Linked DNA regions of Homo sapiens: all the other regions are linked to region 2. Evidence: fine-mapped expression QTL. A gene starts in region 2. Each other region holds a variant in brackets. All regions are shown on one strand. Distances are from middle to middle.

Region 1 (11,192 bases), 61 kb before region 2:
ACGAGGCTGGTGATGCCACCCACTGTTTTTGTAAAGAAAATGTTATCGGAACCAGCCAGGCCCATTTGATTGTCTGTGGCTGCTTTCGTACTCCACTAGCAGAGTTGAGAAGCTGCAACTATACACCCTGCAAAGCCAAAAATATTTGCCATCTGGTCCTTTACAGAAAACAATTGCCAATCCTTGAATTAGAATTTGCAAAGTGTGTCAAAATGCAATACTCTATCTACTGATGTTAGGCAACACCTAAAAACTTTGCTCGGCACTCAGTTTCCTAAAATCTTCTCCATCAAACATCCCTCATCCTCTGCCCTCCAGGCCCCAGAATCCTTGTTCTCTGTGGGGAATAGGGACTCCCTGCTCACAGGCTGTCAACTAAGGCTCAGCCCTTCTTCAGAGAATTTCTTGGTACTTTCTAGAAGCTCAGCCCCTCTGGCCTCTTTCAGGTCCTTCTCTGAGTTTTCCCATAATAAACCAAGTCCCGTTAAGTGGATACTGTGAGCTACTTTCATCTAGTGTTCTATTCAGTGCACTTTAGCAAGTTTTATTTCCTGTGTATAGAAAAGATATTTGTGGTTTACTAAATGTAGTGCTGGGGATCATTTCTTTCTTTTTTTTTTTTTTTAAGTATGAGGTTCCAATGCCCTGAATCGGAATCGCTAAGAATGCTGGTTAAAAATTCAGATTTCATATGGGCATGGTGGCACACATCTGTAGTCCCAGCTACTTGGGAGGCTAAGGCAGGAGGATCACTTGAGCCCAGAAGTTCAAGTTCAGCCTGGGCAACATAGCAAGACCCGATCTCTTAAAAAGAAAAATCAGATTCCCAGTCCCCACCTACCCTCTCTGCGATGGGTCCCAGAAATTTGGCCCATTTTAAGAAGCTCCCCCAGGCAATTCTAATGCACAGTAAAGTTTGACCACCACTGCTATATACATAGAAGGCCATAACCCCTCATTATAACATCTTTGGTAAAGTATCGTTTCAGTTCAGCCTGTGTATGTATATGTTCAACCTGTATATGTATTTACAGTTAAGATGCTCAAAGTCAAACCTCCACATCCTTAGCAGACAGTACTATTGAATTTGAAGTAAATTCCTCTTGAAGTAATGTTTCGCTATTGCCACTATATCTTTGTGTATAAGAGCCAATGCAAAAACATTAGATTGTAAAGCTGTAGGCAAACATCAGAGCTCAGGCTGTGTGTTAGTTATCAATTGTTGCATAACAAATTCCTCCAAAACATAGTGGCTAGAAACAAAAATGTATATTATCTCGGCTTCCTTAGGTCAGGAGTCTGGACTCAGCTTAGCTGTCTCAGAAACTCTAATGAGATTTCAGTCTCATCTGAAGGCCTAACTGGGGAAGGATCCACTTCCAAGCTCATTCATGTGGCTACTGGCAGGACTTGGTTACTTTGGGACTGAGGGCCTCAGTTCCTCACAAGCTGCTGGCCTAAAACCTCCCTTGATTTTTTTCCATGTGTGGGCTCTCCATAGCTACTTCATGGCATAGCAGATGACTTCATCAGATAGAGAGAGCAAGTGAGCAGGTAAGAGAATGTGCCAGCCAGAGAGACAATGCTAACAGGACAGAAGTCAATTTTTTGAAACCTAATCAGGGAAGTGACATCTCATCACTTTTGCCATATTCTAGTCCTAAGAAGTAAGCTACTAGGTCCAGCCCACATTCAGGGGAAGGAATTACACAAGGCCATGAATGTAGGTTTGTGGGGATCATTGGGGGTGGTGTCTTAGCTGCCTGCCACAGTCTGTATAAACATTTCACAGTGCAAATGCATCCTCCATCTCCTTAATGATCATAACCTCTTCACTTTCTCAAAGCCTCACCTCTCAGAGAATGTATCACTGGGTTAAATGAGTACCTGGCAGGTGTTTGACGGCCTTCCTGAGGTACTAGACTCTAAGCTCTCTGTGAGCAGAGGTCTTCATGCCTTGCTCCCTGCTTTGGCCTGGCTCGGGACCTAGGACCAAGAAAGCAGTCGTTCATAGTGTTGAATGATGATCACTTTATTTTTAGCACTCATGATGTGTGACTCTATATGAAATTGTCTAATTTTAGTGTCCATTGTGTACATGGCTCATTTCCTGGGCCAGGCTGGTCAAGACCTTGCACTCTGAGAGTTGCATAGGAGCTCAGCAGGTGTTTGTTAAGTAAGTTCAGATTGGCTACTCGTTGTCAGGAGTTTGAGACCAGTCTGGCCAACATGGTGAAACCCCATCTCTACTAAAAAAAAAATAATAATAATAATAATACAAAAATCAGCCGGGAGTATTGGTGGGTGCCTGTAGTCCCAGCTACTTGGGAGGCTGAGACAGGAGAATCACTTGAACCCAGGAGGCAGAGGTTGCAGTGAGCAGAGATTGTGCCACTGCACTCCAGCCTGGACAACAGAGCAAGGCTCTGTGTCAAAAAAAAAAAAAAAAAAAAAAAAAAAAAAAAAAAAAAAATTAGGTTGGCTAATCGAGGTTTCTAGAATCATCTGCATGTAAATAGGGTTAACTTTGTGGGATGATTTTCTTGAATAAGAAGTTCTCAGCCTGAGCTTCACAGTAGAACCCTGGAAGGAAGGGGAGGTCTTTTAAAATTCCGAAGCCACATCCAGACCAAGTCATTCAGAATCTTGAGGGTGGGACCCAGGCATCAGCGTTCTTGAAAGCTCCCCCACCAGGTGATCCTCTGTGCAGCCAAGGTTGAGAACCACTGTGGTAGACCAGTGTTTCCCAATCCGGGGGAGTTTCTGCCTTTCAGGAGATGCCTTTTAGGCATCTAGTGGTGTAGAGGTCAGGGATGCTGCTAAACATCCTACAGTGCACAGGACGGCCCCTCCCCAACAAAGGATGGCCCATGCCAATAGTACCAAGAGTTGAGAACCCCTGGGCTAGGTCCTACGCTTTGAGTCAGGAAATTGGTTCTAAGTGAAGCAGTAGAAGTCCATGGGGTAGCTTTGTCCCAGATGTTAAGCTTATTGCAGGCATGGATAGCTTGATAAGTCTGGAATATTATATACAATCTATGTATCGGTGTTTCCTGAAGAGAAACTCACTCTTTTAAAAGGCACGCAGTGCATAAACCAATACATTTAAACCTACATATATTTATTTATGCAACATAATACCATACACGTGTGTTTGCATATAGCACGTGCTATAAACACCCTATGCATACAGAGATGTATGCAGGGCATATGAGTGTGTTATTGTGGTTAGAGGAACAGGTATGTCTTCCTCAGCGCCCTTTATTTTCCTTCCCCCTCACTGTAGCCTCCTGCCCTCTGCTTGTCTAGTAAAAGCCCTAAGGCCTCCCTGACCCTTGCTGTCCTTACCCTCAGTCCAGAGGATGCCTCTGCTGTGCCTTGCTGCCTGGAGGGTTCCCATCACCCAGGTTAATGTGGCTCTTGGCTTTCACCACCAATCCTTAGTTTCTCAAAGGGGTTCACAACCTTTTTAAATTACTAGTGTGTCTTGTAGAAATTGAACTTCACAAACAGGTCTTCTGAAAACGCTTTCTTGTGGTGTAATTGATATGCATATGGTGCATCTCTTTAAAGTGTCTGACAAGCCTTGACATACGTGTGTGCTCATGAAAGCAGCACCATGAGCAGCATGGCAATGTGGCTGCCACTCCCAACTCTTTCCATCCTTCCTATGCTCCCACTCTCCCCAAGCAACCACTGATCTGCTCTCCTTCTCTGTGGATTAGTTTGCATTTTCTAGAATGGCCCTTGTGAAGATGTGTTCACATAAATTCTCTCACCCTTTCTCACCCGAATAGAAAATGTTGCATGATGTTGATTGCTTAATAGCTCCACAGCTTTGTCCAATTTTTATCCTTCCTGCTTTTACTGAAGATGTCCTGCCCCCATGAATAAACCTCAGAAGACCCATTCTGCCACCGCCTACCACTGAAGAGTTGAGCTTGCACCCACTCCAGTCCAGCCCACACACCAGTGCCAGATTCATCTCTTAAAAGCACATCCTGAGTCACGCCTCGCCTGCTCACAAACCTTCCCTCTCTTCCCCTTGCTGCAAAGTGAAGCACAGAGGCTTGAGGCTGGCTTGGACATCTTCCATGGACCAGGCAATGGGGGGACCTACCTTCCTGACTTCTCCCCACCATTACCCTGGTGTCCTTGATGAACTCGGCTACACCCTGAACGCTCCCCACGTCTCCCACATCACATGGGTCCTGCTGTCCTTCCTTTGTGCTTTTCATGGAATCCTTCTGTTCTTCAAGGCCTCTTCACCTCCTGCCATCCATAAACCTTTGCCTTAGCAACCCACACCAACCAAAGAGATCTGTCCCTACCTCACTCCCCCATATCCCTGTGTCAGCACTCTCTTTATTCTACTTTAGTGATACCTTATGTGTCTGTGTGTCTTACCGCCCCCCTCACCCCACCCACAAGGATCAAAGCCAGGAGGGCACACTTGCAGACCCCACCACAGTGGCTTGCACATGGCAGGTATTGGACAGACACTCATTGAATGGAATGGAATCCAGGAAAGTAGAGACACTGTCGCCCAGATGGTCAAGGAAACTGATTGCTGCTAAAGCTCAAAATTGCAGATATTAAATACTTCTCAAATGTCTGGAGTAGCCTCCAGATTGCTGTGCTCTTAAAATCTGTGTCATCTGGACTTAGAGCTGGCTTCCCCTACTCTCCATTGATCTCCATGATTCCTTGCTGTCCCACTTTACCAGGCTAAAAGCCTTTGGGAAAACCAAAGCCAGTTCCCACAAAAGGCAAAGGAAGAGACTAACAAGTATCTGGTTGTTGGATTTGTTTATTCCCAGTCATGGAAGCGTATCATTGCTTTTATTGACTTGCTTATCTTCTGCTAGTACCATATTGCAAATGTTAGAGGCTCATCTATTTTAAGACTTCCATAGTGTTTTCACAAAAATGAAAATCCCTTATTAAACAGATTTTAGGACAAGCTTCTAAAAGGACCTGCCAAAAAGTGATTTCCTTTCTATCATTAGAAATAGTTTCCACATTCTTATCGTTATGTAGTTGAACTTTTATGTCCAGGACTGCATGAAAGACGTGAGAACTGAGAAGCAACCTATATTTGATTTCGCACTTTGTTCTTGGACAGGAAGCCCCTGTCAACTGACTTCACATCTTTTTAATGCACTATATTAGTGGTTCACAGAACTTTCTGGGTGTTAGGTCCCTTTATGTGCTTAGAAACAGTTGACCCCAAAACGCCTTTGCTCTTCTGAGTTGTGCCTATAAATATTTTCTATATTAGAAGCTAGAACTGAGGGCTGGGCATGGTGGCTCATGCCTGTAATCCCAGCACTTTGGGAGGCCAACGTGGGCAGATCACCTGAGGTCGGGAGTTCAAAACCAGCCTGGTCAACATGGCGAAACCCCATCTCTACTGAAAATACAAAAATTAGCCAGGCCAGCCAGGCACAGTGGCTCACACCTGTAATCTCAGCACTTTGGGAGGCCGAGGTGGGCGGATCACCTGAGGTCAGGAGTTCGAGACCAGCCTGACCAACATGGAGAAACCCCGTCTCTACTAAAAATACAAAATTAGCCAGCATGGTGGTGCGTGCCTGTAATGCCAGCTACTTGGGAGGCTGAGGCAGGAGAATCGCTTGAACCTGGGAGGCTGAGGTTGCAGTGAGCCGAGCTGGCACCATTGCACTCCAGCCTGGGCAACAAGAGTGAAACTCCATCTCAAAATAAAATAAAATAATAAATAAATAAGCCAGGCATGGCAGCATGTGCCTTAATTCCAGCTATTTGGGAGGCTGAGGCAGGAGAATCACTTGAACCCGGGAGGCAGAGGTTGCACTGAACTGAGATCGTGCCACTGCACTCCAGCCTTTGAGTTTTTTAAGATGGAGCGAGACTCCATCTTAAAAAAAAAAAAAAAAAAAGAAAAGAAATTAGAACTGA[G/T]AAGTTTATTACTTAATAATAAACTTAGTCATTTAAAATAATAGCAAATCCATTATATGTCAACCTAAGTAATGTTTAGGAAAGATAACGATTTTCAAAAAGAAAATAATATTTTAGTGTGAGGAATAGGACTGTTTTACATTTTTGCAAATCTCTTTAATATCTGGCTTAACAGTAGACAGCTGGACTCTTACATCTGCCTCTGCATTCATTCAGAGGCATCTTGGGGTATCTTGCTTTGGTTGAAGTATATGAAGAAAACTCAAATTTCTCACAGGTATGTGCTTGGAGAATGGAGGAGTGTTTTAATGGCCTTTGCAGATAATTATGAAATTCTTCCTTGATACTACACCAAAATTCAGCAGCTAGTGGTTTCTTAAAGACTACTTGTAATGTGGAATCTGAAACCATATTGATGATATTTTTGTACTCTTTTCCACTAAAATTCATTGCTTGATCTTGCACTTTGATTGACTCTTATATTCAAGAATTATTTTCCCTTGGCTATTTGGAAAATATTGGTTCTCTGAGTTGTGCAGATCTTCCAGACGTTGACACATTTAATTAAACCATGTCAAAAAAATTTCATTGGTTAATGTCACCACCAATTTCATCAAGAAGTCTGGTAAGTATTTGGAAGCTGTCAGTCTCACTATGGCAGGTACAAGTTTTCCAAAATTGATTGGCAACAGATACTATCAGTTGTTTTCTTTGAAGTGACAAGCTGTTCATTTTTGGGAAAGTTTCTGCCAAATACTTAAGTCTAAAAAACTATATCTTGTCAGGCATTCTTTCAAGAAAGGGGGTGTTTGCCCCCAGAAAGGTACAAGTTTGGCTCATAACTCAGTTACATAAGAATGTTTCCTGCAGCCCACTGTCACACGCTGGTTTGTGGTAGAAGGGCTCTCTGCATCCTCTCACTCATTTCATTACACAAACTGTTCGAAAGGCACATACTCGGGGGTTGAGATTTAATCAAATTAATAATTTTTTATTGCATCGAGGACATTTGGAAGTGAAACTGGCTTTTTAATTTATTTTCTTGCGAGCGCGTGGTAGTGAGGAATGTGTTCCTGCTAAGTACACTATGGAGCCACTGCCCGATTCACGCTCAGGCATCAGCAGTTTTACTGTGCAAATGTCAAGCAGTGAAAAAAGTAAATAACATCTTGGTGCTATTATAAAAAGTTTTGGCTTCACAGTCCTCCTGCAAGGATCTTGAGGTCTGCCGGGGCTGCACAGACCGTCTTTGAGGGCCCACTCCTGGCTCAGAGTGAGACTGGTGGGCAGGCAGGATAGAATCTCTTGGGAGCTCAATGTCCTTTCCAGACCTGCCTGAACAGAATCTGCGTTTTAATGAAGTCCCGAGGAGATTTATACGCAGGTTAAAGTTTTCCTGTAGTCCCAGCTATTTGGGAGGCTGAGGCAGGAGGATGGCTTGAGCCCAGGAGGCAGAAGTTGCAGAGAGCTGAGATTGCACTGCTGCACTTGAACCTGGGTAACAGAGTGAGATTGTATCTGGGAAAAAAAAAAAAAAGAGAGAGAGAGAGAGAACCACTGCTCTTTAACAGAGGTCTGCAAAACTTTCCTTTAAAGGGCCACATAGTAAATACCTGTGGCAACAACTCAACCCTGCCTTTGTAGCTTGAAAGTAGCCATAGACCATATGTAAATGAATGAGCGTGGCTGTGTGCCAATACAACTTTATTTATAGACACAGAAATTTGAATTTTGTGTACCTTTCATGTGTCACAAAATAGGTTTTTTAATATATTCTAAGCGGTTAAAAAAGTAACCACTTGGAATCATGTCAAAATCATTCTGAGTTTGCAGGCCATGAGGAGAGCCAGATTTAGCTGGTGGGCCACAGTTTGCTGACCTGTGCTATATAACACTGAGTGCTCATTGAAGTTACCGGGGGAGCTTCAAAAAAACAAACCCCAACCCTCTAATTCCTGAGTCCCGTCCCCAATAAATTCTGATAAAATTGGTCTGGGGTGAAGCCAGGGCATCAGGATTTTCAGATGCTCCCCAGATTATTCCAATGTGTAGGAAAAATGGAGAACCTCTGCTCTATAATGTTTTCCAAGAAAGTTAGTTTTCTTTTAAGCATTTCTTTTTAAGATTTTAGAATTTGGCAGTGTCACCAAATGTCTGAGACCAGAATTATGTATTGTAACCTTAGAGCAGGGTTTCTCACTCTTGGCACTGTGAACCCAAAGCTATCTGAGATAGGTCTCAATCAATTTAGAAAGTTAATTTTAGCAAGCTTAAGAACCTGTGACACAGCCTCGGGAGATCCTAATAACATGTGCCTAAGGTGGACGGGGCACAGCTTACTTTTATACCTTTTAGGGAGACATGAGACATCAATCAATACCTGTGAGATGTACATTGGTTCAATCTGGAAAGGCAGGACAACTCAAAGGGGGTCAGAGGGTGGCTTGCAGGTTATAGGAAGATTTAAAAATTATGTAAAGACCTGGAATCCATAGAAAGGAATGTCTGGGTTATGATGATAAGGGGTTGTGGAGAGCAAAGTTTTATCCTGTAGGTGAAGCCTCCAGGTAGCAGGCTTCAGAGAGAATAGATTGTAAATGTCTCTTAGCAGATTTAAGGTCTGTTGATGTTAATGCTGGTTGGCTTTTCCTGAATTCCAGAAGGGAGGAGGGTATAATGAGGTATGTTTGACTCTCCCTTCCAATCATGGCCTGAACTAGTTTTTTCAGGCTAACTTTGGAATCCCCCTGGCAGAGACCAGGAATCTATTCAGATGGTTGGGGGTGGGGTGGGGGGTGCTTAGAATTTTTTTTTTTTTTTTTTTTTAAACGGAGTCTCGCTCTGTCGCCAGGCTGGAGTGCAGTGGCACAATCTCAGCTCACTGCCACCTCCAACTCCCTGGTTCAAGCGATTCTCCTGCCTCAGCCTCCCAAGTAGCTGGGATTACAGGCATGCGCCACCACACCCAGCTAATTTTTGTGTTTTTAGTAGAGACGGGGTTTCACCATGTTGGCTGGGATGGTGTCGATCTCCTGACCTCGTGATCTGCCTGCCCTGGTCTCCCAAAGTGCTGGGATTACAGGCGTGAGCCACCCCGCCCGGCCCAGAGTTTTATTTTTGGTTTATAGCACTATTGGCATTTTGGGTGTGACCATTCTTTATTTGGGGATGGGGGCTGTCCTGTGTATTCTAGGAGGTTTAGGAGCATCCCTGGCCTCTACCCACTAGATGCCAGTAGTGTCCCCCACCCTCAGTTGTAACAACCAAAACTGTCTCCAGACACCGCTAAATGTCCCTGGGTGGCAAAATTGCCTGGATTAGGAACCAGTGGTCTAAACGATGTAGATGTTTTTTGTGCTACTTCAGAGAATCTCCACATTGGAGCTATTGACATCTGGGGCTGGGTAATTCTTTGTTATAAGAGCATATTCTGTACACTGTGGGTGTTGAGCAGCATCCCTGGTCTCTACTCACTAGATGCCAGAAGCACCCTCTCCCCCAGCTTTGGCAACGAAAAATATCTCCAGATATTGCCAAATGTCCCCTGAGGGGCACAGTCACCCCCTGTTGAGAATTGCTTGGCCAGCTCAGAATCAGGGAAGCTTCTGTCCACTGACATTCACTGCTGCTTCTCTTAGGATTTTCGCCCTCTCCATTTTCCCATTGCTTGTTGCTTGAAAGTTGTAAAGCTTGGTTCCTGCATCTTTTCTTTTTAATTTTGTGGCTCATTAGGAATCAGTAATATAGCAAGGAAGGCCCCATGTAGAGAGGTAAGGGGGTGGTTTTTTTGTGTGGTGTTTGTTGGGGGGTGTTTGGGAGGGTGTGTGTGTGTGTGTATGTATGTGTGACATTCATTCCCTGGGGAAGAATCTGAGCCCTTGTTCCTGCCAGCCCTACGTCTGAGCCAGCATTAAATCTGCAGCCAAGATCACAGACAACTTGGGCAAATCACTTGGCCATTATGAACTCACAGCCATGGCAACGGCCATCCACAAGCCTGAGGACAAAAGGTGTTTTATTCTGTTGTTCTGCACAAAAGGTTCTAGGGATACTGGAGACAAAATAGCCTTTGAGACTTAAAGGCATTGATGTGTATTTTTTTTTTCCCTACTACATGGCTTATATTTAAACTGTCTTAGGCTAATGTACACTGTAATTTTTGTGTGAATCAAAACCTAAAATTCTTTTTATCCAGAGGCCAGCTAAATGAAGGCATAAGACAGCCCAACAGAGGCTTTTAGGGTTTGGTGAGAGGTATTGAGAATTACTAGTAAAATGTGCTAGAAAGCCTGGCATTCTAGCCTGGCCAACATGGCAAGACCCCGTCTGTACTAAAAATACAAAAAATTAGCTGGATGTGGTGGCATGTGCCTGTAATGCCAGCTACTAGGGAGGCTGAGGCATAAGACTCACTTGAACCCAGGAGGTTGAGGCTGCAGTGAGCGGAGATCACACCACTCACTCCAGCCTGGGCAATAGAGTGAGACTCTTTCTCAGGAAAGAAAGAAAAAAAAAAAACCTGGCATTGATTATTATTTTTTTACATGAATACATCACAGTCATCAAAAAAATGCTTTCCTTATTTTTTCTCGTTCACGTTACCCAATGTTGTCATTGCTGGTTTGAAGCTTGGGAAAATTCAGTCTGTGGATTTATAGGAGCATCCAAGAAAAGCACTGATCTTCCTTAGCTATCGTAAACTTTTAACAGCATGGTGTTCTGCTGGTACTTGGCACCACCCCTATATTTAAAAACATCAGCTTGCCTATGACTACTAAGGACAGCCTGAATCCCAGATCTACTTCCTTTTTGTGCACAGGCACTCCCAGCACTTTAGGGGGTGGTTGGAGTGTGTGTGTTTAGAAATCTGCTTTCTCAGGTGACTCAATTCCCGTCTTCTCAGACCCTGTCTATGGCATGACACTAAAGCATGAAAAATTCCAAGGTTAACAGTACTTGTTTGGCTCACAAAAATGCACTCTAGCTGCACTCTTTTCAAGATGGCTGGACAACTTGGAACATTTTGTTTTTCTTAACTGTAGTCCTTGGAACTTGCCATTTGATTCACAAGTGACTGGAGGGTTATGGCCAAACCCAGTGGGCCACGTCTTAGAGAAAAAACATCACACACCATCGAATATGAAAGCAGGCACTTCAAACAGACTCAGGATGCCACACCTGAGACCGGGAAGATGCCACTGTTGACTAGAAATGGGCTTCTCAAATTTTCATGTGCACACAAATCACCCCAG
Region 2 (6,103 bases):
TAAAAATAAAAAAGTTAGCCAGGTGTAGTGGTGGGCACCTGTAATCCCAGCTACTTGGGAGGCTGAGGCAGGAGAATTGCTTGAACACAGGAGGCAGAGGTTGCAGTGAGCCAAGACTGCGCCATTGCACTCCAGACTGGGTAACAGAGCAAGACTCTGTCTCAAAAACATAAATTAATAAATAAATTCCTAATGCTGACAAATAAAATTTGGTTGCTTATGAAGAAATGCAAATTATTTAAGTTTTCATTCAAATACTGTACTAAGCTTGTGTCACTAAAACTTTGGAATATGAAACTTTTGGATAATTACAGAAAACACAAAGAAAGTAAAAACATATGAACACCACCAAGAGTGAAATTTATTTTATTTTTGAGACAGTCTCGCTCTGTCACCCAGGCTGGAGTGCAGTGGCATGATCTCGGCTCACTGCAACCTTCACTGTAAACTATGGCCTCTGGGTGATAATGACATGTCAGGGTAGGCTTATAGATTGTAGCAAATGTACCACCTTGATGCAAGATGTTGACAGTGGGGGAGGCTATGAGTGTGTAGGGGCAGCAGGTATATGGGAATTCTCTGTACTTCCCACTTAACTTTGCTGTGAACCCAAAACTGCTCTGAAAAAATAAAGTCTATTAAAAAAAAAAAAACACGCACATATCCACAGGGAAAGTCTGCTGTATCTGCCTTTAAAATAATAAAGTAGTACTAATGTTCAACAGTAATGGTGAAGAAATATAGTTAAAATAATTAGAAAAGTAGTAAAAAAAAAAAACAAGTGTTTTTAATATTTGAGAACTTTACAGATTTTTTAAATTACGTATTTCTCACTTATCTAATTACAAAGAGAAACATCTGAAGAAACTAGTGCAGGAAAAAAAGAGCTCATGTTAGAGATCTAGATTTACCACCCTGCATTGTCACTTAAAAGTTACTTGATGTTGGGCAAATTGATTCACCTCTCCAGAGTCTGGTTCCTCATCCGTAACACACAAAACATCTGCAGTGTGCCTATCACAGTGCCAAGCTTACAGCAGACATTCAGCAGATTGGCAGAGTCTTATTAGACAAGATAGAGGATAGATAGATCAATTATAGGTCTGAAACATTTAGAGATTCTATACATCACTGTTTTATGTGAGACTAAATGAGACGCCAAGAAATTAATTTCAAATTTAGTACCCACTTGTTATATAACAAATATATTATGTGCAGGTACAATGTGAATTCAAAGAGGAAACAGAAATGGACCTAGTCGAGGAGCACTTAGCTATCATACAGCACTTTACTGTCAGCAGAGGAAGAACCTGTTAATAAAAACTTCAGAAACAGAAAAGGAAAGACTTTACCTTTTCTTTTGCCAAACCACTTTCTGGAAAGAAAACAGAAAGTGAATATTCATAGCCACATCTTTGTAAGTGATCTGCCACTAAAGAGTTAGAGGCGCCTATTAAGAGGGAGCTCCCTTCTACTGAAATGGACCGAGGCTGCAGTTCTCCACTCAATACAGGGTGCATCAACTCATGAATTAGCTGGTTTCGAAGTTGTGTCTAGCATAAAATAAAAACAAAAATAAAAAAGAAACACAAGGGAAAGAAATTTCAGCAGGACTGTTTCATTAGAGATATACACAGATGAGCTACATTCATTGGAAACCTTCCTTCTATTTCCATAATGGTTCTAGATCCATGGCCAGAAGTTAGAAACCTTCCCCTGCACACTTTGTCTTACCCCGTGAGACAAGCAGTCCAGTGGGTTCTAGAAAAAGCTTTCTTTCCCCAGCTTCCAAATGAAACGGGTGGTTAGCCAGATCCACTTGCAGACTCATAACTTCACTTCCCTAGAAGCCCATTTCAGCAGCTTACGATTGGGATATTAAGTATAGGAAAAAATTCTGCCACTTCATCACACCTCTGTGGACTGTTGGAGAATATAACCAAAATATTCAACAACAGGGGACTGCTATATACATTACAAAAATATCCAAAGATAAGCCTGTTGCCACTGAAAATGAAGATTTCAAAAAACTTTTAAGGAAACAGGGAAATGCTCACCATATAATTTAAATTAAAAAAGGATACATACACAGGATATAGCTACATATTTTAAACGTAAAATATGCTTTTGAAATGCATATTTCAATGAAAACACGTTGAGCTAATCCTACTCCTGGCTGTTAATCCAAATATAAAGCATACTAATAGGTATTTTCTGCCCAAACTAAACATTCATACATTTCAATATAGTTTAAAGATAAAATTTTTCATTTCCCAAACTATTATTAAGCAGTACACTAGTATTTTCTATATGGTGTCAATGTCCTTCATCCAAATGTATTACAAACCCACTTATTAATTTAGGAACCTATAAGCCATATTTATAAAACAAGCCTAATCTTACTGTGTTCATTATACAAATATTTCCTTCTCCTATCTTATTGTCAGTTCAATTAATTATTTGAATATGCTCCTTTAAGACGACTCAAACTCAACATTTTCTCAAACATTTTCAAGAGACTGTAATGTTTCAGGATACAGAGTTATTCGGGAATATAAAAATGTAATTCACCAATACAATCTATGTATCATACGATTATTAAAACCTAAACCTTGATTGAATTTGAACTACCTGTTACAGGTTACACTTGTAAAAGCTGACACAGATACGCCTAAATCCGATACCTTGAGTGTATCCAGTATACCCCGATCCTTAAACGTCTGGTATAGCTTTTTGCGCAGTTCATCTTGACTCAACACATCAGCCACGGTAAACATGTTGGACTAAAAGACAAAATGGTTATAGGTTACCTGCGGGGCAGAGGGAACGTGAACGTCTGAAAACAGACCAGTGGCCTCCGGGGAAGCCATAAGAGGCCTAGCGGCGAAAGTTTAACGAACACAAAACAAGACTTTATTTCCGCCCGAGAAGGGGCAGGTGTGTCTACCTGCGCCATCATCAGGCGTCAGCTCCCTCCGGAGCCCGCCTCGCTCGCCCCGCCGCGGCCCGAGTTTAGTGCCCAGCCCGGGCGGTGGGGCCAAGACGAGGGGGAATCCCTGCCCTCAGAACCCTGCCTCTGTCCCGAGGGTTCGGGAGGAACAAAGGTGCTGAACGTTCTCTGCCTCGCACTCCCAACTAGGTTTTCTAGCAAACACGCGAGCTTCCTTTCTTCGCGGTTCTGAGGCAAGGGCGAGGACCCAGGCACGACTCAAAGGCGGCTGGAGGGCGGGGACCCAGACACTAGGGACTGAAGGCAGCGAGGCAGGACCGCCTCACAGCCAGTCCGGCAACTTCCGGAAACCTGCTAAATATAGCCTTCCCGAGCTGAAGAGCTACGGCGCATGAGCTTGGTTGCCCAGCACCGGCCGGAAGCTCCGCCTACGTATCGCGAGAGCACATCCCAGGGTATCGCGAGAACTGCTTCGGCGTTCTGGCTACAGGTTCGGGGCGCGGGTCTCTTCCGCGGAAACTGACATTGCGTTTCCGTTGTCGGCCTCCCACTGCAGGTAGGGAATGGAGCAAGTGCGGCGGGGGGCGGGTGTTTTGAGTCCCTGGAGGACTTCGTAGCCCCTGCGTGACGCGGATGTTGGTCCTGTACCTCCACCCCTCCCCGGGGTGGCCGGGCCGGACCTGCCAGCCCTCCGCTGGCTCATCCGCGCAGCCCTTCCACCTGCAGACGTCCGCCCTCTCGGGGGCTGTGGTTTCGCGGTTCACTGGGTCATTCAGCTAACCCAGGGTTTCTTAACGGCTGCACTGTTGCCTTTTGGAGCCGGAAGATTCTTTGTTTTGGGAGGCTGTCCTGTGCATTGTAGGTTTAGCTGTATCCTTGCTCTCTATTTTGTCAGTATCACCTTCTCCCCCAAGTGTGACAACCAAAGATGTCTCCAGATATTGCCAGATGTCCTCTTGGAAGCAAGATCGCTCCGGGTTGAGATCCACAGAGCTAAACGTTTTAGAGTACCAACCATTGTGTGCTGTGAGGTAAAGGTGAGCCAGTCCTCATGATGCTTAAATGTAATTAGAAAGGAAAGGAACCAAACCTCTCAGAAGCGATAATGAAAATGTTACAGCCAGAGAATTGAACAAGAACTAAGATACATTGTAGACTGGATAAAGAGTTTAAAGGGGAGGTGGTTGAAGATGGAAGTGATCCAGATCATCTCTGTGGAAAAAGTGTGTCTTTATCGGGGCCTTGATGGGTAGGATTCGGGTGGTGAGCAAAAAGGAGAACATCACAGGAAGGGGAAAAATGAGCAAAGGAATCATTAAAAGAAAAAAAAAAGCCACGACCTTCTTGGGAGCAGTGAGGAATCTAGCCTGACTCCAGAGTTGTGTGCTGGGAATATAAGCCTTATATGGTATCTAAGTCCTGTGAGGACAGAATTGGATGTCAGCTTTGTGTACAGCATTGAAGATGAGTACGATGAGTTTTGATCTCTGGCTGTGAAAAACTTAAAGTATTTAAGAGGCAGTAAGAGTGACAGGACTTCATAGGAGGTGGAGAACCTGTAAGTTTTTGTTGGAAACAATGGAAAAGGAGGAGAGGCTTAGTTGGATTTTAAAGGATGGGTAGTGGTTGCAGACAGAATAAAGGAGAACATTCCAGGCATGAAGAGAGAAATGATAGTAGCTCTGAACTCGATATAGTCAAAGTGAATTTGGGAGAAAAAATAAGTAAACGAGTCAACGCTAGCAGAGGTGGAACAATAGGGCTGAGAAAAGACACGTGGAGCAATGTGGGAATCTTGAATACTAGTACATGATCCTGTAGCTGAGATGCATCAAAGGCTTTTGAGTGGAATGATGAAAACAGTGTTCTAAAAAGATGTTGATATGTTGTAAATGTTGTTAAGTAGAATCACTTGTCCACTGTTTAAAAAAAAAAAATGTTCCTGAAGACCCCCTTACTCCCACCTCCACCTTTGGTCCCACAGTTGAATACATGAATATAATTAGATAAAATGTTCTCCAAAAACTAGCATAACTTCTAGGGGAGGGAGAATTGCTTATAATATTAATAGAAAAATGTCACATTAAAGACCTATCAGTAGTATTCCTACTGCCCCTCCTCATTGTAATAGACATGTCCCATGCCATACCAGTTTAGTCTCATGACCCCAGGTTTATGGAACAACTGAAATCACTGCTCTCGCGAGCACAGGGCAGTTTTTCTAGAAGCTCTTCTATAGAGGTTGTAAAGAGGCATGCTACAAAAATGGATGTCTTTGGAACTGGAGTCCATGAGTTTTATCTTGCATTTGTCTACAACTTAAGAGACTTCCAAGTTCACTGAGCATCCTCCCACTCTGGCACTGTTGGTGTTCCACCCACCCCTTAGTTTCTAGTTTCCCAGTGACTTCAAATGAGCAGCCCTGGGCTTGGCCTATGGAACGGTTTGGAATAAGTCTGTGTAGTCCAGAGTCAGCAAATACTTGGCCCTCCTGTAGGTACTGCACTTCCCCAAATTCATAGCAGACATGGATAATTGATCACAGCATTCTTTCCTGGTGACCACATTTAGTCTCAGAATCTTTCTCAGCGCCAGTTCCTGGCAGTCACTACCAGTTGATTAGAATTCGCTTATGAAAGGAAACTCATTTGCCATCCCTAGCCAAGTCCCTTTTTCATTAGATAGCTTATCGTATTTAAAGATAGTACTGTGCTGTACCCCACTCCCTTTCCACCCCAAAAAGGTCTCCCCTACTCCGTTTAAACATCCTCTGTTACTTCAGTTGCTCTTGTCTGGTTTCCAGAGCATTTCCTAGCCTAGATCCTGCCCTCCCTTCCCCTGTAACACACAGAGTTATTGATCCTTTTACAATATGATTCCCAGAACTGAGTACCTTCCCCAAAGATGATAATATTATTGAAGAGGACATCAGCATTCTCCCTGACCTTGCTCTTAATGCCACCTAGAATTGATTAGCTTTTTTGACAAACCTATCAGACTTTTGCCTCTTACTGAGCTTGCAGAACTTTTGGGTTGATGTAGATGAACTGTTCTTAATCTAGGTTTCCCTTGTCCTTTTGTACAGTTGATTTTTAAGCCCAAGTACAGGGCTTGCTTTCTTATCCTCTTAACTTCTATCTTGTTAATTTCACC
Region 3 (6,531 bases), 30 kb before region 2:
CCCTGCCCATGGCACTGGCACCTTATCTGCCGACTCCTGGTCTTGCTCCTGCTGGATGATTTTCATGTATTTCTCTAAAGGATTTTCACTGTGAGCAGATTTGTCTTTTATTTCTTGATTACTCATTTCTAATTCATTTTCCATTTCTAATTCCTTTTTTATTTTAATCTTCAGTGATTCTTCAATCATCTTCTATAAAACAGGCACCAAAACAGAAAATACACAAATACATTTGTAAAACTTTTAAGTGTTTTAAAAATGCACTAATATTAATCCCGATCCTTCAAGTACAGCCTGTATGCCAGAGGACTAATTTTTAAAATTGAAGTCATTGCTATCATCAAAGGAAGACAAATATGTCATCTCAATGAAGGAAGGTATTAATTGGCAAGTGTCCTGTGCTTTGGACTTGAATTAACCAAGAGTCCAAGGAACATTCATATGTTAGAGTAATTCAAGCAAGACTTAGCAGGTGTGTTAAGTGGACAGAGTAATCCATCTGCTAGGACTAGAATTGGGACACAGAAGGCAAGAAGAGAAATAGAGGAAGGAGGGAGGGAGTGTGTGCCCCTGGAAGCAACTGTGAACTGGCAGCCACTCCTCCCTTGGGTTCTAGTCCCAGCTAGCTGGCACTGACAGTCTCTTCTTTAAACCCTGTTTTCAAAGCAAAGTTCTGCAGCAAAGCACAGTCTACCTTTTTTACAGGCTTGTTTTAAGGATCAGATGAGAATGTACAAAAATTACCTTCAAAAACTATCCTTTACTACAAAACTCCTAAGCTTCACATTCTGTGCAGCCTTTCCCACTGCTTTTAAGACAAGGAGAGGACAGGGATGCCTTTTAAGGCATCTGCCGCACCTCTGACTTTGTACACCAATTGACTCCCCTCCCTGAGCTCAATGTACTTACGAAAGGTGTACAATGGAGCAACCAGTTCAGAGAATCAAGTCATACTTATTACCCTTTCCTGATACAGTTTTTCTAGTTCTCTTCGTTCCCTTTCTAAAACTTCTTGTAGGTTACTCTGCCTTCTTTCTTCTCTCTGCCTTCGTTCTTTCACTTGCTGTTCCCGTATTTTTTCTTCTTCCTTTTGTTCTTCAATTTGTTTCTGATCTACACCTAATAGGACAGAAAATAAAGAGTAGCTTCCAGTATCAGATTATTCAAATGAATGCAGGACCAGTCTGCAGGAGCCCTTGCCAAGACCCACGGAGACTCTGCTTGGCTTTTAGTTGACTCTGTGACCTGCTTCAAGTCACTATTTCATTTTCACCGACTTCAAGCTCCCGACCCCACTCCTTGAACTGTACCCTACTTCACTTGACTGAGACAAATACGTCACCCTCACCATAACCAACTCCAACTGTCCTCCTTCCATGTCACATGTTCTCATCCTCTTCACAGATCTCCTCCCTCCTTTCCAAGGCAAACCCTGCATTTCTGCCTCTGCCTTTGATTATAATCCCTCCCCTATCTTTAGGACCCAGACTGAGCCATTAATCCCTATTTCTGTACACAGTAGTTTTAGAAGTCTTACTCCCATAAAGATGCTCAAGTCTGTCCTACCCCAACAAAACAGAACAGAAATCACACCACTGCCCTCCCCCCGCCATTCCAGCCATCTCACTGTTCATTCCCCACTTCCTCCAAACTGACGGCAGCCCTTCCTGGGGTTTTAGCCATCACTTGTATATGGATCCTTTCCCTATCTTTTCCTCTACTCCTGGTCTCTCTCCCTAGCCTCGCGTCCACATTTCTGATAGTTCCTTGCCATCCGCATGTGGAAACCCCACAGCACTAGCTTCGTCCCAGGCATGATCATCCCGGTCCTTCGATCATGCTCTTTCTACCCTCTATCCACTCAGCCACCAGTGTTTGCAGGTTCACACTCCCTGTCCTGTGGCTGCAACAGGGGCCCTTCTCACCATCTCCCTGGACTACTGAAACAGCCCAGTCAAGGCTCTTCCTGAAGCCAGTCTCTGCCTTCCAACAACCTGTGGTCATCTGCACCAGGCATTTCCTGAGGGGAAGATGTGGATCTGCTGTGCAGCATCTCCGCTCTGATAAGAGTCCTACGCCATGGTAGTCTGGGCTCTGACAACCTGCCCTTTTCTTCCCAGATTGATTTCCTACATCACCACCAACTTTGTACGAGAAATATTTCATCTGTACCAACCCACTCACTGGGGCCTGGCCGTGGCTCTATCTTCCTTGCTTGACATTCACCTTCACTGTCTCCTCAGCCTGTAGCACTCCCTTGCTCTCACAAAGTCTGAAATGCTATTCAAGACCCAACTGAAATGCCACCTCCTCCTTATTCCTGAAGTGACAACTAACCACTCCAGCATCTCACTTGCAGGATATCTTGTACCTGATCTGTCAAAAACTACATGTACTTGTTTCTTCCACTTCTATTCCTTCCAGGCAAGGTCCATACTTTAATTACTTGTCTGTT[C/T]CCTCTGCATCTTGGCACAGGTCCCTATATCTCAAAAGTTTTAATTAGACCCCAATCCCAGAGACAATTATGCTGACCTTTCTCTTCTGGCTCTGACCCATAACCTACATTTTTTTTTTCAACCCAAGCAATGCTAATAAGTAGAAAAATTCATAGGTTCAGCAGAGGACTTTGAACCTTTTTGCTGTGCCTTGTTCTAAAGTGATCAGCAGGAACTGAGTTTTACTAATAGGAGAGAAGCAACACAGTTTCTTCTCTCTCTCCCCCATCTCTTCTGAATCCTTCTCATGAAATTAAAATACCAGAGGAGACAGCTGATCATTTCCACAGGCAGAAATGCAACTTCCTCCTTGCTAGAGAAGAAAAAATAGTTACTCCTAAACAAGATTGCTTTCTTATATGGAATAGTAATCTCAAAATAGGAATGTTGTTTAAGCACCAATTACAAAATAAAGAGGAAGAGTGAGCTGCTTCTCTACTCTGGTGTATATTTTGTAGCTGCAGGGTGGTATACAGAAATCTCTTGGACACAAGGGGAAAGGAAGGAAGCATGTCCACGGGGCACCTCCGAGACACCAAATTTCAACCTTTTTGAATTCCCTTTGTGCCCAGATGAAGAGATGAAATGACAAATATAACAATTTCTCAATAACTAAAATGTCACTCGCCATGCTGCTTAATAATTTTTAAAGCAAATATTATAATCTATGTTCCATCTCAGCAGCAGAACACCTAGTTACTCAGTTGATTTCCCTTATCCTATCACATTATTTGTATTCCCTCGCTCAGGTCTGTGCCAAATGAGTGCCTGTAGACACTCCCTCTTGTGGCCACGGCCCCTACTCAGCTGCTGCAGCCCCTCCCTGCTGCGGTCCTGGGTGATGGCCTGCTGACCATCTGCCTCCCCTGCTAGAAATCCAGGAAGGCGAGGGCTTGAGCTATATGCTCAGCGCTGAGCAAAGTGCCCAGCAGAGACAAGGCTCTAGATCATGTCTCACTGAATGCTTTCCAAAGCAGATTTACTCTGGAATCAGCAACATCAACCCTCTCAAAATCTCTTGCCTCTTTCAGTTATTTTATATGTTCCTGGGTACCATGACTAAAACCAAGAAACTGCTAACAGGGGTTTTGGGTATGATGTTTTTCCAACGTTTGGGAGGGACTAAGAGGTGGCTTTACTTGAGAAAATTCCTTTCAGATTTGAGGATTAAACACTTGGTCCAAGAAGAAAAGGACCTGGCTGTTGGCTGAGCCCTGGAACAAAGCACAAAGCTCCCACGGCTCTCTTCCCGTCTCCCTCCACCCGCAGGGAGGGAAGTGGGTAATCTGGAGGAGAAGAGGAAAAAGAGGAAGTGGGCCAGAGAAGAGAAGTCTGATGGCCAGTTTTCCTCCAGTGCTACGCTAACTCGGTGTCACAGCTTTTCCAAAGATTGAAATACGAAGTTTTTCTGTCCTAATTTCTTAAGACACAAAGGAAACAAGTAGATAGAAAAATAAATAATATTTAAATGTTACAATCATATTAAAGATATATGCTGGGAGTTAATTATTATTTCAATTTTTCACTGTGATTTCCCAAACTTTAAGGTTCCCAAGGAACAGTTTTTGCAGAAGAGTCTTGGGGAAAAGTCCAACTACTATGCCAGGCACTGAAGAGTAAATGAAAACACTTTTTAAGCAACTGGCCTGGGAAGCCTAAATGAGAAGCCTTTCCTTCCAACGTGTCCTTTCTCAGCACTGTCTTTACATGTTCACATGGGAATTACTTCAGAAATGTCATTAACAATATAATGACACCTATAACCCCCAACCCAAGATTTTGACTAATTTACACCTACAAGATGACTTCAGTGATACATGAAATAATTCACAGAGCACACGGACTGGTATTTAGTATGCGACCCTGCTGACTGTTAGTTCAAAAAAAGAACTTACTTGGGTGCTGATATGAGAGGGGCACAGCAGCTGCAGCAGCGTCCACATGAGACATATCCCCGGCAGGAGAAAGCCCGCCCATTTCCAACTGCCTTGGCATGTTCCCTGCAGCTGCATGAGGCACAATTGTCCCATGAGTCCTTAATAATAACACCAAGACAAAGAAGGGCAGTGCAGTGTGGGGGCAACTGACTGGAGCACGGGAACTGAAGCCAAAGTAACTGGGTGCGCCCTTTCCTAACAGGATTCTATGAAGTTCCCAACATAACCACTTGGCAACGTATTTGCTTGTCAGAGTGTTCTCGTAGTTGAAAGAATTAACTTTGTTTACAAAATGAGATTCGTTACCCAACAGGAAAATCAACCCAGTGACAGTGAAGAATTCAATTGGCTTGCTGATCATCATTTGAATTCTATTAAAATATCAATGATTTAACACAAAGACTTTAACAAATATTTACAAAATTTACCAAGCCCTCTCATTTAACTGTTCAAAATATTAACACTTTCAGATTTGAAGATGAAGTTTACAAGGCTAACCAATAGCTTATATGCAAATATAAAGATTTCTCAAGCTGGAAAGAACCTTAGAGATGATAGGCTCTACATGCTTATTTTACACTTACAAAGTGGCTACAAAGTAAGACAGTCTAAGGCAGGGCCATAGCCAGGACACCAGTTTCTGGACTCTTAATATTCTTTTATCTCTATTCTTTTACTAAAAATGAGGTTTTCTAAATCTGAGGCAATCAACTGAATCAGTATATTTAAAAAATAACATCCTTAGGCCGGGCGCAGTGGCTCATGCCTGTTATCCCAGCATTTTGGGAGGCCGATGCAGGCGGATCACTTGAGGTCAGGAGCTCAAGACCAGCCTGGCCAATATGGTGAAACCCCATCTCTACTAAAAATACAAAAAAACTAGCTGGGTGTGATGGCATGCACCTGTGGTTGGTCCCAGCTACTCGGGAGGCTGAGGCAGATGAATCACTTGGACCTGGGAGGAGGAGGGAGATTGCAGTGAGCCAAGATCGGACCACTGTACTCCAGCCTGGGCAACAGAGAGAGACTCCATCTCAAAAAAATAAAAATAAACATTCTTGTATTCCATCAAAGGAAAAAATAAATAAAAATCACTTATTTAAAATCTGATAAGTTAATAATTCATTTATAAGCTTAGCTCAAACTCTGAAATTATTAGTCATACTGAAATTTTTAAAAAGTAAACACACACATGAAAATCATCATGGTAGAAAAATGAGGTGATACATCTGTACTTGTGGTTGTATCACAAAATAATAATGACCCAATTTGTAACTGCTTTTCTTTTTAAACCAATGGATACGTTTCACCAAAACTAAGCTTTCTAGATTTTCAACATATAAAAACTGGTATTTATATTTGAACTTACATTCAAAAGATGATTCAAACTCCTCATTATCCTTAAAAGCTAGCTTGTCCACATCTGAAAATTCACTTTTGTCTTGAAGTTCAGTTTGTCTTCGATAAAGACTAGATTGGAAGGATAAAACTCGTGAAGTTTCAATAATGGAAAACCAAAGAGTACAAGGTGACAAAAAGCCTTTTGTGACTCAAGAAAAGGCTCTACAAAATTCCCTTTCTCTTTGTCTTGTAAATAGCTCCACCTCACCACCACCACTAGGCATTGTTCTCAGCAATTAATACCTGTTTAATCAGTTACTCCTTGTAACTATTTCATGCTGTGAAGTAGGTACTACAGTTGTTAATAAAGAATAATGTTGTACTCTGAATGCTATTCCTAGGAAATAACCATAAAACATTTCTGAAAAAAAATTCTGCACACTATCAGCATGAACCAGATGAAGATGCAACACCACAACCTTGAGTGAGCAAAGCGCCCTAACTCAGCATATGTGTGTGTCTTATCCTTCCTTTTGGCTTATCACAAAAAAAAAAAAAAAAAAAAAAAGCTTTAGGACTACGACAGGCCCATGTGGCAGAGAACTACATTAACATGCAGATGCCCGAGATCGAGCCTGGAGCTAAGGAGTCAGTTCCCTCTGCTGTGGGGCCCAGGTATGGGTAGGAGTCTGCTCATGACTCAAATCATAGCCTGGCTGACCCAGTGGACTAGTTTCTAAAAACATCCACTCCTTCCT

Alleles and levels. Positions count from the first base shown, and alleles are read on the strand shown. Sizes are in standard deviations (SD) of each study's normalised expression. Not every link is listed here.
In carriers of allele T in region 3, the expression in breast of the gene that starts at base 3,283 in region 2 tends to be higher than with C alone (small effect, 0.14 SD a copy in GTEx).

The links. PIP is the estimated chance that this variant, and not a neighbour inherited with it, causes the effect. A credible set is the group of variants that fine-mapping cannot tell apart.
Region 1: its variant is the best candidate, but not a certain one, in a credible set for the expression of OFD1 in monocytes (TOPMed, PIP 0.53).
Region 3: its variant is the best candidate, but not a certain one, in a credible set for the expression of OFD1 in breast (GTEx, PIP 0.65).

The regions. Positions count from the first base shown.
Region 1 is chrX:13,790,472-13,801,663 of GRCh38, reverse strand. The region is part of intron 2 of GPM6B (glycoprotein M6B); the gene reads left to right. Among named protein-coding and RNA genes, the nearest start is that of GPM6B, 21 kb to the left of the region's middle. The variant G/T (reference allele first, on the strand shown) is at 5,941.
Region 2 is chrX:13,731,928-13,738,030 of GRCh38, reverse strand. OFD1 (OFD1 centriole and centriolar satellite protein) reads right to left here and starts at 3,283. Exons shown (of 23, transcript NM_003611.3): 1 at 2,948-3,283; 2 at 2,685-2,783; 3 at 1,353-1,553. The coding sequence starts at 2,959. TRAPPC2 (trafficking protein particle complex subunit 2) reads left to right here and starts at 3,411. Exons shown (of 6, transcript NM_001011658.4): 1 at 3,411-3,506; 2 at 3,846-3,987. RefSeq lists enhancers at 2,370-2,941, 2,710-3,909.
Region 3 is chrX:13,761,715-13,768,245 of GRCh38, reverse strand. OFD1 (OFD1 centriole and centriolar satellite protein) reads right to left here. Exons shown (of 23, transcript NM_003611.3): 18 at 5,802-5,902; 19 at 4,391-4,501; 20 at 962-1,119; 21 at 22-192. Among named protein-coding and RNA genes, the nearest start is that of OFD1, 30 kb to the right of the region's middle. The variant C/T (reference allele first, on the strand shown) is at 2,456.